Linked DNA regions of Homo sapiens: regions 2 and 3 are each linked to region 1. The links come from fine-mapping of genetic effects on gene expression. A gene starts in region 1. Each other region holds a variant in brackets. All regions are shown on one strand. Distances are from middle to middle.

What was found. PIP is the estimated chance that this variant, and not a neighbour inherited with it, causes the effect. A credible set is the group of variants that fine-mapping cannot tell apart.
Region 2: its variant is the best candidate, but not a certain one, in a credible set for the expression of ASIC1 in whole blood (TOPMed, PIP 0.57).
Region 3: its variant is the best candidate, but not a certain one, in a credible set for the expression of ASIC1 in whole blood (TOPMed, PIP 0.68).

Annotation. Positions count from the first base shown.
Region 1 is chr12:50,056,198-50,058,954 of GRCh38, reverse strand. ASIC1 (acid sensing ion channel subunit 1) reads right to left here and starts at 1,359. Exons shown (of 12, transcript NM_001095.4): 1 at 1,039-1,359; 2 at 1-204. The coding sequence starts at 188. RefSeq lists silencers at 1,157-1,326, 1,397-1,556.
Region 2 is chr12:50,523,499-50,526,255 of GRCh38, reverse strand. All of the region lies in intron 1 of DIP2B (disco interacting protein 2 homolog B), which reads right to left. Among named protein-coding and RNA genes, the nearest start is that of DIP2B, 20 kb to the right of the region's middle. The variant A/T (reference allele first, on the strand shown) is at 1,304.
Region 3 is chr12:50,078,617-50,081,373 of GRCh38, reverse strand. It overlaps ASIC1 (acid sensing ion channel subunit 1), which reads right to left. Exons shown (of 12, transcript NM_001095.4): 7 at 2,394-2,450; 8 at 1,319-1,472; 9 at 785-876; 10 at 193-272; 11 at 10-114. Among named protein-coding and RNA genes, the nearest start is that of SMARCD1, 5.3 kb to the left of the region's middle. RefSeq lists a silencer at 117-286. The variant T/C (reference allele first, on the strand shown) is at 1,497.

The DNA.
Region 1 (2,757 bases):
TCCGTGCACACACACAGCAGCACAGCCAGGGAGCCCAGGAAGCACAGGGCCCACAGTGCCCGCTTCAGAGACAGCCGCTCGTAGGAGAAGATGTGGGCCAGGCCGTGCAGTGTGGAGCTGCTGGCGAAGGCCTGGATGCTCACCGGCTGGACGCCACCCACCTCCTCCTCCTCGGCCTTCAGTTCCATCCTTGTTGAGGGGATCCTGGGGGAGGAGGGAGGGACAGTCTATCATTGTCCTGGGATGAAAGTACACATGGAGCCCCTCCACATGTGCCCATCCAGAATCCTCATCTCCAGAGGTCACCACTCCTCGGGCAGAAGACTTCCCTGCTTTGCAAGCCCAGAGGTGGCTGACCAAGGGACACATCCAGGGTTCCTCCAAATACAGAGGCACAGGGGGTCAGGTCAGGCCAAGAGAATGCTCCCCAGAGAAGCTTCCCAGGCCCGGGGAGACCCCAGATATAGTCATCCGAGGTTGAGGGGGAAGTCCTGATGCACCCATAGGCAGGCGCAGGAGTTCCCTCCAGATGTGGGGTCACTCTGGGACAAGAATATCCACCCCATCCTGGAGATGAAAACTCACCCAGATGGGCTGACCCCGGGGTAAGGAGCTCCTGTCCTGGTCACGGGTATTCCCTGGACGGGGCTGTGGTCCTAAGGGCTAAACTGGGGCCAGAAAACCCCCAGGGAGGTGGCTACATCTAGGGAGGGGCCCAGCCTGAGTCCTCACCTGCGGGTGTCTCCAGTTCTCACATAAGCGCAGGCTGTGTGTATGTTGGGAGTGGGGGGTGGCGGGCTGCCCGAGGTGGATGTATGGAGGGGGGGCGCGGTTCCCTATGACAGCGAGCTGTCCCCGCCCCGGACGCAGCCCCCCCCAGTCCAGCTTCTCGTCGCAGTCAGATCCCCAGCTCGGCCCCCGCCCCCCTCCCCAGCCACCGAGCCGCCCCAGCAGCAAGGGAAATCCAGAGGGAGGAGAGTCCCGGCTTCGGGGTACCGAGGAGCCTCGCGGCCAAAGGCAGGGGTATCGGAAACCCACCTGAGGGGGCTTCGGCAAGCCGGCAGCCGGCGGCGGGTCCTGGGGCGCTGGACCGGTGGCGGGCTCAGCGCCGAGTCGCGGAGGGGCTCATGGCCCGGGGCCGGAGCCCGCGGCCGCCGCGGCACGCCGCGCAGAGCCCTGCAGGGAGCGCCCCGCCCGGCCCCGCTCGGCTCCGATCTGTCCGCCCGCCCGCGCGCGCTGGCTCGCTGGCTCGCTCGCCTCGGCTCGGTCTGCCCGGGCTCGGCGCGGTGCGCGGTGCTCTCAGCCCTGGGATCTGCAGGGATCCATCGTCCGGCCGGGAGGCGGCGGGAGGGGAGGGGGAGGGGAGAGGGTGCGCGTGCGCGCCTACGAGTGTCTGCGAGGCTGTCTCTGGGCTGGTGTGCGCGCGGGGCCCCGGATCCGGGAGCGGGACCCAGGGCTCCCCGCGCCGCCTCGCCCCTCCTCGCGGCCGCTTTCGGCGGCGCTGCCTCTCTCCAGTCCCGGAGCCGTCTCCCTGCCTGCGAGGCCCTATGGCTTGTGTGTATGACTCTGTGTGTGGTGTGTGTGCGCGCGCGCGTGTGTGCGCGCAGGAGGGAGGGTGTCTGCCCCTAGCGTCCCTCTCCCCGCGCTGTCTCCTTCGGATCGATGCTCCTGCCTCTTGCTGCTGCTTCCTCTGGTGGCACACACGCGCGTACACACACACATACACACACACGCTCCGAGTCACACTTGACTAATTCAAGCACTTAGCCCATATGGAGACAGACACACATACCGACCAGAGTCACACCACACCATTCACAACCACACCCCCCCGCAACAGATGTCCACGTATCCCGGGGGCCTGACCCACATGGCAAGCACTCACCTGCTCTTATCCCTGCTCCCACCTGCATGTGACACATATACACGTGCACATATGTGAGCCAACACGCAGCCTTGACCACTCAGATCCCATCCTTGTAGCTTTGGGCTTGTGGGGGGCATGGTCGCAACCCCTTACTGCCAAATCTCCAAAGAAGGAGCAGAGAAAAGGAAGGAAAAATAGCCAGAGGTCAAGGGAATTTGGACAGAAGGAAGGAGGCAAAGGGAGTGAAGGGGACAGGGTGAGGAAGGGTTGGAACGGGGAGCTATGCTCAGGGATGGAGCAGAAGTCTCAGCACAGAACGCAGGCCTGGGGGCTGCTCCTGTGGCTCTCACCTTTCTCCTTCCCTGCCTCCCTCCTCTTCTCTGAGAGGCCTTGGGGAGGGGGGCCCTCCCTATCCAATTAACAGAGAAGGAGCAATCAAGGGGAAGTTGTTAATTTGCTGATGCTCATTAGGGGCTCTTAGCACAGAGGCTGTTGAGGTCTGATGGTGTCAGATGATGAGGAGGAGGGTGCGGGGGACCAGAGTTCTGTCTCTAGTGGCTCCTTCGCTCTACTTGCAGGCTGGTGCGGCTCGGGGAGAAGGATGGTGAGAGGTGTATTCCTAGGACATGGTGCCGGGCTTTAAGTTAGAAGAAAACCTGTAACGAGAAGGGGATGGCACATTGGAAAGAAGTTGGATGAGAAGTTGGGAGTAGTGGACATCTAGGAAACCAGAGAAGGGGTCTGGAGGTCCCTAGTGGGAGAGTGGACTTAAGATTGTGGAGGAGGGAGGTCGAGATCCATTTACTAGGGGACTGGACACGGAGCTGCCAAAAGGAAGGGAGGATCTTCCATTCAGGTCTTGGGGAGCTGTTCAGCGGTACCAGGCAGTG
Region 2 (2,757 bases), 470 kb before region 1:
TCCTTCCTGGCAGAGACCCTGGGGACAGAGCCTACACTTCTTTACTCTTTAAAGCTGCCACCATCTAAAGAATTCCATTGGAATCTTCTCCCTGCAAAGTCCATTTGTTCACTGAACAAGTGTCTATTGAGTCTTCTATTCTAGGCACTAGAGAGACAGCAGGGAACAAGACAGTAAAATCTCTGCACTCAAAAAACAAACATTTTACTGAGGAAGAATCCAATCATATTAATATATGAACAAGATCATTTCAAATGTTGGTATTAATTAGAAAATTTTAAACAGGAAAAAAAGAAAGTAAAAGAGAGTGGTGAGATGAAGAATGATGGGAGGGGTTGCTAATTTAACCTTGGAGGTTCTCTAAGGAGGTTAACTTTGAACTGAGACTAAGTTGGAGCAGAACATTCTAGGAAGAAGAAAAGCAAGGAACAAGACATAGAGGTGGCCAGGCATGGTGGTTCACACCTGCAACCCCGGCACTTTGGGAGGCCAAGGTGGGAGGATGGCTTGAGCCCAGGAGTTCAAGACAAGTCTGGGCAACAGAGTGAGATCCTGTAGCTACAAAATATAAAAAAATTAGCAAGGTGTGATAGTGCAAACCTATAGTCTCAGCTACTAGGGAGGCTGAGGTGGGAGGATCTCTTGAGCCTGGGAGGTCAAGGCTGCAGTGAGCTCCATGTACACCACTGCACTCCAGCCTGGATGAGAGAGTGAGACTCTGTCTCAAAAAAAAAAAAAAAAAGGGGACCTAGAGGCAGCAACATGCATCACGGTTGAGTTCAAGGAAGAAAAGAAATGCCTATTTTGTTCAAAGTATCATCTCATGATGACCACCCTCTTTTAAATTGTGCCCAATAACCCTCTACCGGTATTCTCTGTATTTTTTTTTTTTTTTTTTGAGATGGAGTCTCGCTCTGTCGCCCAGGCTGGAGTGCAGTGGCCCGCTTTCGGCTCACTGCAAGCTCCGCCTCCCGGGTTCACGCCATTCTCCTGCCTCAGCCTTCCAAGTAGCTGGGACTACAGGCGCCCAACACCACACCCAGCTAATTTTTTTGTATTTTTAGTAGAGATGGGGTTTCACCATGTTAGCCAGGATGGTCTCAATCTCCTGACCTCGTGATCTGCCCGCCTCGGCCTCCCAAAGTGCTGGGATTACAGGTGTGAGCCACCGTGCCCAGCCTTCTCTGTCCCTCTTGATGCTTTTTCTCCATTGAAATTTTTACCAAATGGCCAGGCACAGAGGCTCACACCTGTAATCCCAACACTCTGCAGGGCACCAAGGCAAGAGGATTGCTCGAGCCCA[A/T]GAATTTGAGACTAGCCTGGGAAACATGGCAAGACCCTGTATCTACAAAAAATAAAAATTAGGCGGGCATGGTGGCACAGGCCTGGAGTCCTAGCTACTCAGCAGGCTGAGGGGGAGGATCTCTTGAGCCCAGGAAGAGGAAGCTGCAGTTGAGCCATGATCACACCACTACACTCCAACCTGTCTCAAAAAAAATAACAATAAATTTTTACCATCTAACAAGCAATACATATTACTTGTTATTCTCTGTCTACAGCTACAGATGTAAGCCCCCTAAGGGGAGGGGTGTTTGTCATGTTAATCACTGCTGTATCACCTGCACCTATGTGGCACATAGTAGGCACTCAATAAACACCAGATAAATTAAAAAAAGGAAGAGGGAAGCGGGAGGATGGAGGGAGGCAGGGAGACAGGTGGAGAGGAGAGGGAAGAATAGGGAAGGAGAGAAGGGAGGAAGGAAAAGAGAAAGAAGAGTCAGCCAATGTGGCTGAAGCACAATGGGTGAGGGGAAAAGATGAGGGGTCAGGGCGGTGTAGGTCTTGCAGGCCATGGAAACGTATCTGAATTATATTTTAAAGACAAACTGAATTCATGGAAGAGCTATAAAGCGGGGAAGTAATATGACCTAATTTGCAGTTTAAAAAGCTCTCTACCTGCTATGTGGAAAATGGGTTAGAGAGAAGAAAGCTGGGACACCACCAGGTAAGGAGCTAAAGAAGCAAGAGATGTGATGACATGGGCATGATTAACAGTGACTCGGCATGGAAAGAAGTAGATTTAGAATATATTCTCAAGGTAGTACCAAAAAGGCTCACTGATGGACTTGATACAGAGAGGTGGCCTGAAGGAGAGGAATCAAGGATGTGTTATCAATTTATGGCCTTTCAGCTCCAAATATACCCTCGCTGCTCTGTGAAAACTGAGATGGGCCCTTTAAATATTTTTCCTTTGACAGCTGCCATGATGTTAAACTTTGCCTGTCCATAGAGGGCACTGGAAAGACATTGCAGGAAGAGGCTTTTCTTTCTAGCTCCAGTGTACTCCTCCTGACAGGATAAACAGAATATCAACAAGTTCTCTATTCTGATGTCCTATGGAGTCCTAGTAAATTTATTTTAAAATATTTTATAATTTGAGGAAATTGGGAAGACAACTGAACTAAGCTAATACAACTTGTATGTTTTCACACGTAATTGTTTTCCTATATATATAAGAATTTGGGCATAGTATTCTGTCCATTCATCCTGTTTTAAAGCTAATACCATACTGCTTTGAATACAGTAACTTTAGAATCTGTTTTAATATGTGGTAAGGCCAAGTATCACCTCACTATTCCGTTTCTAAATTTTCTTGGCTATTCTATTTATTCTTCCATGTGAACACTAAGATCATTTTATCTAATTCTCCATTCCCTAAAGAATCTTCCATTGGAGTTCTAATTGGACTCCCATTAA
Region 3 (2,757 bases), 22 kb before region 1:
CTCCCTCACGTGTCTTTTGACGTCGTCCAGGCTGAGGGCCACGCCCTTGTCCGCACTGCTCCTTTTGGCCTCCTTCTGGCATTTTCCTCGTCGGCACAGCTTGTGCTTAATGACCTAGGACGGGGACGGGGCAGGTGGGCGGGCTGGACCCCGCCCCCACGTGGCCCCGTGCCGGGCCTCGCCCCCGCTTACCTCGTAGGCGTAGTCAAAGAGCTCCAGCACCGTGAGGATGCTGGCCCCGATGAACAGCCCCATCTGGCCCCCGATGTCACCTGCGGGGGCAGGCGCCAGGGGGGTCAGTGGGGTCAGGACATCGTGGGGGCAGCAGGGTTTACTGGGACTGGGGCAGGCAAGTTGTATTCTCAAAGGGATTGGTAGCCTTCGCACAGAAGGATCGCAAAGCCAGATTCAGGTGGAATTTTTGTTTTCTTCTCTATGCTTTTCTGCGTTTTTCTACCTTTCTAAAACAAGCAGGTGTTTTTCAAGAAAAATAATCGTTTACAAAATACCACAACCCTCTTAGTTTAGGGGCATATGAAATAGTCTCCACTTCCATGCCTACCCCTCCCTCATGCCCACAGGCCTGTCTTTTCTCTTTTCCACTTTGCCCTAAGAGAAGGCTCAGTTCCCTTCCCTCACCACTTACCAAGACAACAGGGTTTGGGGAAGGGCCTCTGGGGTGGAGGACCCTCATGGGACAGAAGTGAGCACCCTGCTTTTGGATGATAGGGAGCCACGCCATGCCCATGGCATGAGAAGGGGACAGGTGTCATCAGCAGCTCACCCAGGAGCCCTGCAATCTCATAGGCCTTCTTCTGTTCAATGGTCTCATAGTTGAGGACTTCAAAGAAAATGTCCAGCACCAGGATGTTCTCCCTGCACAGGGATTGGGGGAGGAGACCTAGGTTCAAGTCATATCTCTATCTCTTACTAACCAGGTGACCTTGGCAAGGCAGCCTCTCTGAATCTCAGTTTCCATATCCATAAAATGAGATGCTGATGGAGATACCTGCCTTTTAGGATTAAATGAGATGGCATATATGAAAAAATGTTCTGTACCATATGCAGTATGCATCAAGTATAAAGTGACTCCGGTTACAACAATGAGGATGAAGAAGGAGGAGAAAGGGGTGCTTCCCTGCTTATTCTGGCTTGATCTTCCCTGCATACCCACCCTAGACTCTTTGCTTGCCTTTTGGACCTTCCCCGTGTTATCTCAAGTTCCCCCTGCCTGCCAGCCCCCGCCCCCATCAAACCCCACTCATCCATTCCACAGTCCCAACCCAAGGGCCTTGCTCTACCCAGCCAGAGCCCTTACCCTATGTATTGCTCAGATTTGTTGAACTTCTTGGCCAGGTACTTGGCTGAGGCTTTGCTGGGGATCTTGACCATGGACAGCTCTTTGCCATAGCGGGTCAGGTTGCAAGGCATTTCACACACGCAGTACTCCTGGTCCTTCTCCACCAGGAAGTCTGCACTCAGCCAGGTGAGAGGTC[T/C]CAGTTGAGTGGTGCCCTTCTGCCAGCACCTTCCCACATGCACATCCTAGCTCTGCCCAGAGAAACTCTGGGCCCCTTTCTCTTTCCGTGACCTGCCCTTCACCCTGCCTGGATGCTAAACTCTGCCAACATCCTACCTCACCATCCAGCCTGAGGCATGTTTGAGGACTTTACCTGCTGAACCCTGCAGGCCACTGAACCAACGATGTAGATGGAGAGAACTAGGAGAGTGAGGAGAACCCCAGCTGCCCCCTCACAGCTGTGTCTACCATGTGCTAATTCTCACCAAGCCTCCCCATGGATATTTCTTACTCTTATATCTCACTTCCTCAGGACCCTCCAGGGTCAACCAGCTGAGGGGCTGATGAAAGAAGATGAAGGCCATTCCCAGGTGACCTCTGTTCATTTTTCATAGGGGCCTCTGAAGATGCTATTCTCAACTTTATTGATTATTATTATTATTCTCAGACAGGGTCTTGCTCTGTCACCCAGGCTGGAGTGCAGTGGTGCAATCTCGGCTCACTGCAACCTCACCTCCCCGGTTCAAGGAATTCTCCCACCTCAGCCTCCAGAGTAGCTGGGACTAGAGGCACATGCCACCATGCCCACATAATTTTTTTTTAATTTTTCATAGAGTCAGGGTTTCACCATGAAACCAGGCTGGTCTCGAACTCCTGGGCTCAAGCAATTTGCCCACCTCAGCCTCCCAAAGTGCTGGGATTACAGGTGTAAGCCACCATGACTGACCATTCTCAGCTTTAATGTCAGACACAAGAGAGGGTGCAGCCCAGTCCAGGAGTTATGTGAGGCTTCTGGGAGCGTGACCTGAAACTCCTGCGCACGTGGCTGGCAGCACCTTTTCCCTCCCCCAGACTGCCCCAGGCCAGGGGCGCTCACCCAGAGCAGGATCTGCACACTCCTTGTACTGCTCTGGAGTACAGTATGGGGCATCCCCTACAGAGGAGAAAAGACAATGATGCAGGATGGGAATTCAAGGGGTCTGGTGATGGTGGTAGTACCAAAGGCCTAGAAGGTGTAAGCTGGGAGAAGATGGGAAGGGAGGACTGGCAGGCCCCCATGCTGCCCCAGAAGTGACCCACTCCAGGTCCATACCTTCTAGACCCTTCCCACCCATCCCTGGGGGTGCAGGCGGGAACTGAGGTCAGAGAGACATGAGCCAGGTGGGTGTGGGATGGGGTGGGCTGGAACTGGGGTTGGGAGATTGATATGGATGGGGAGCTAGTGAAGGGCAGCAAAGGCC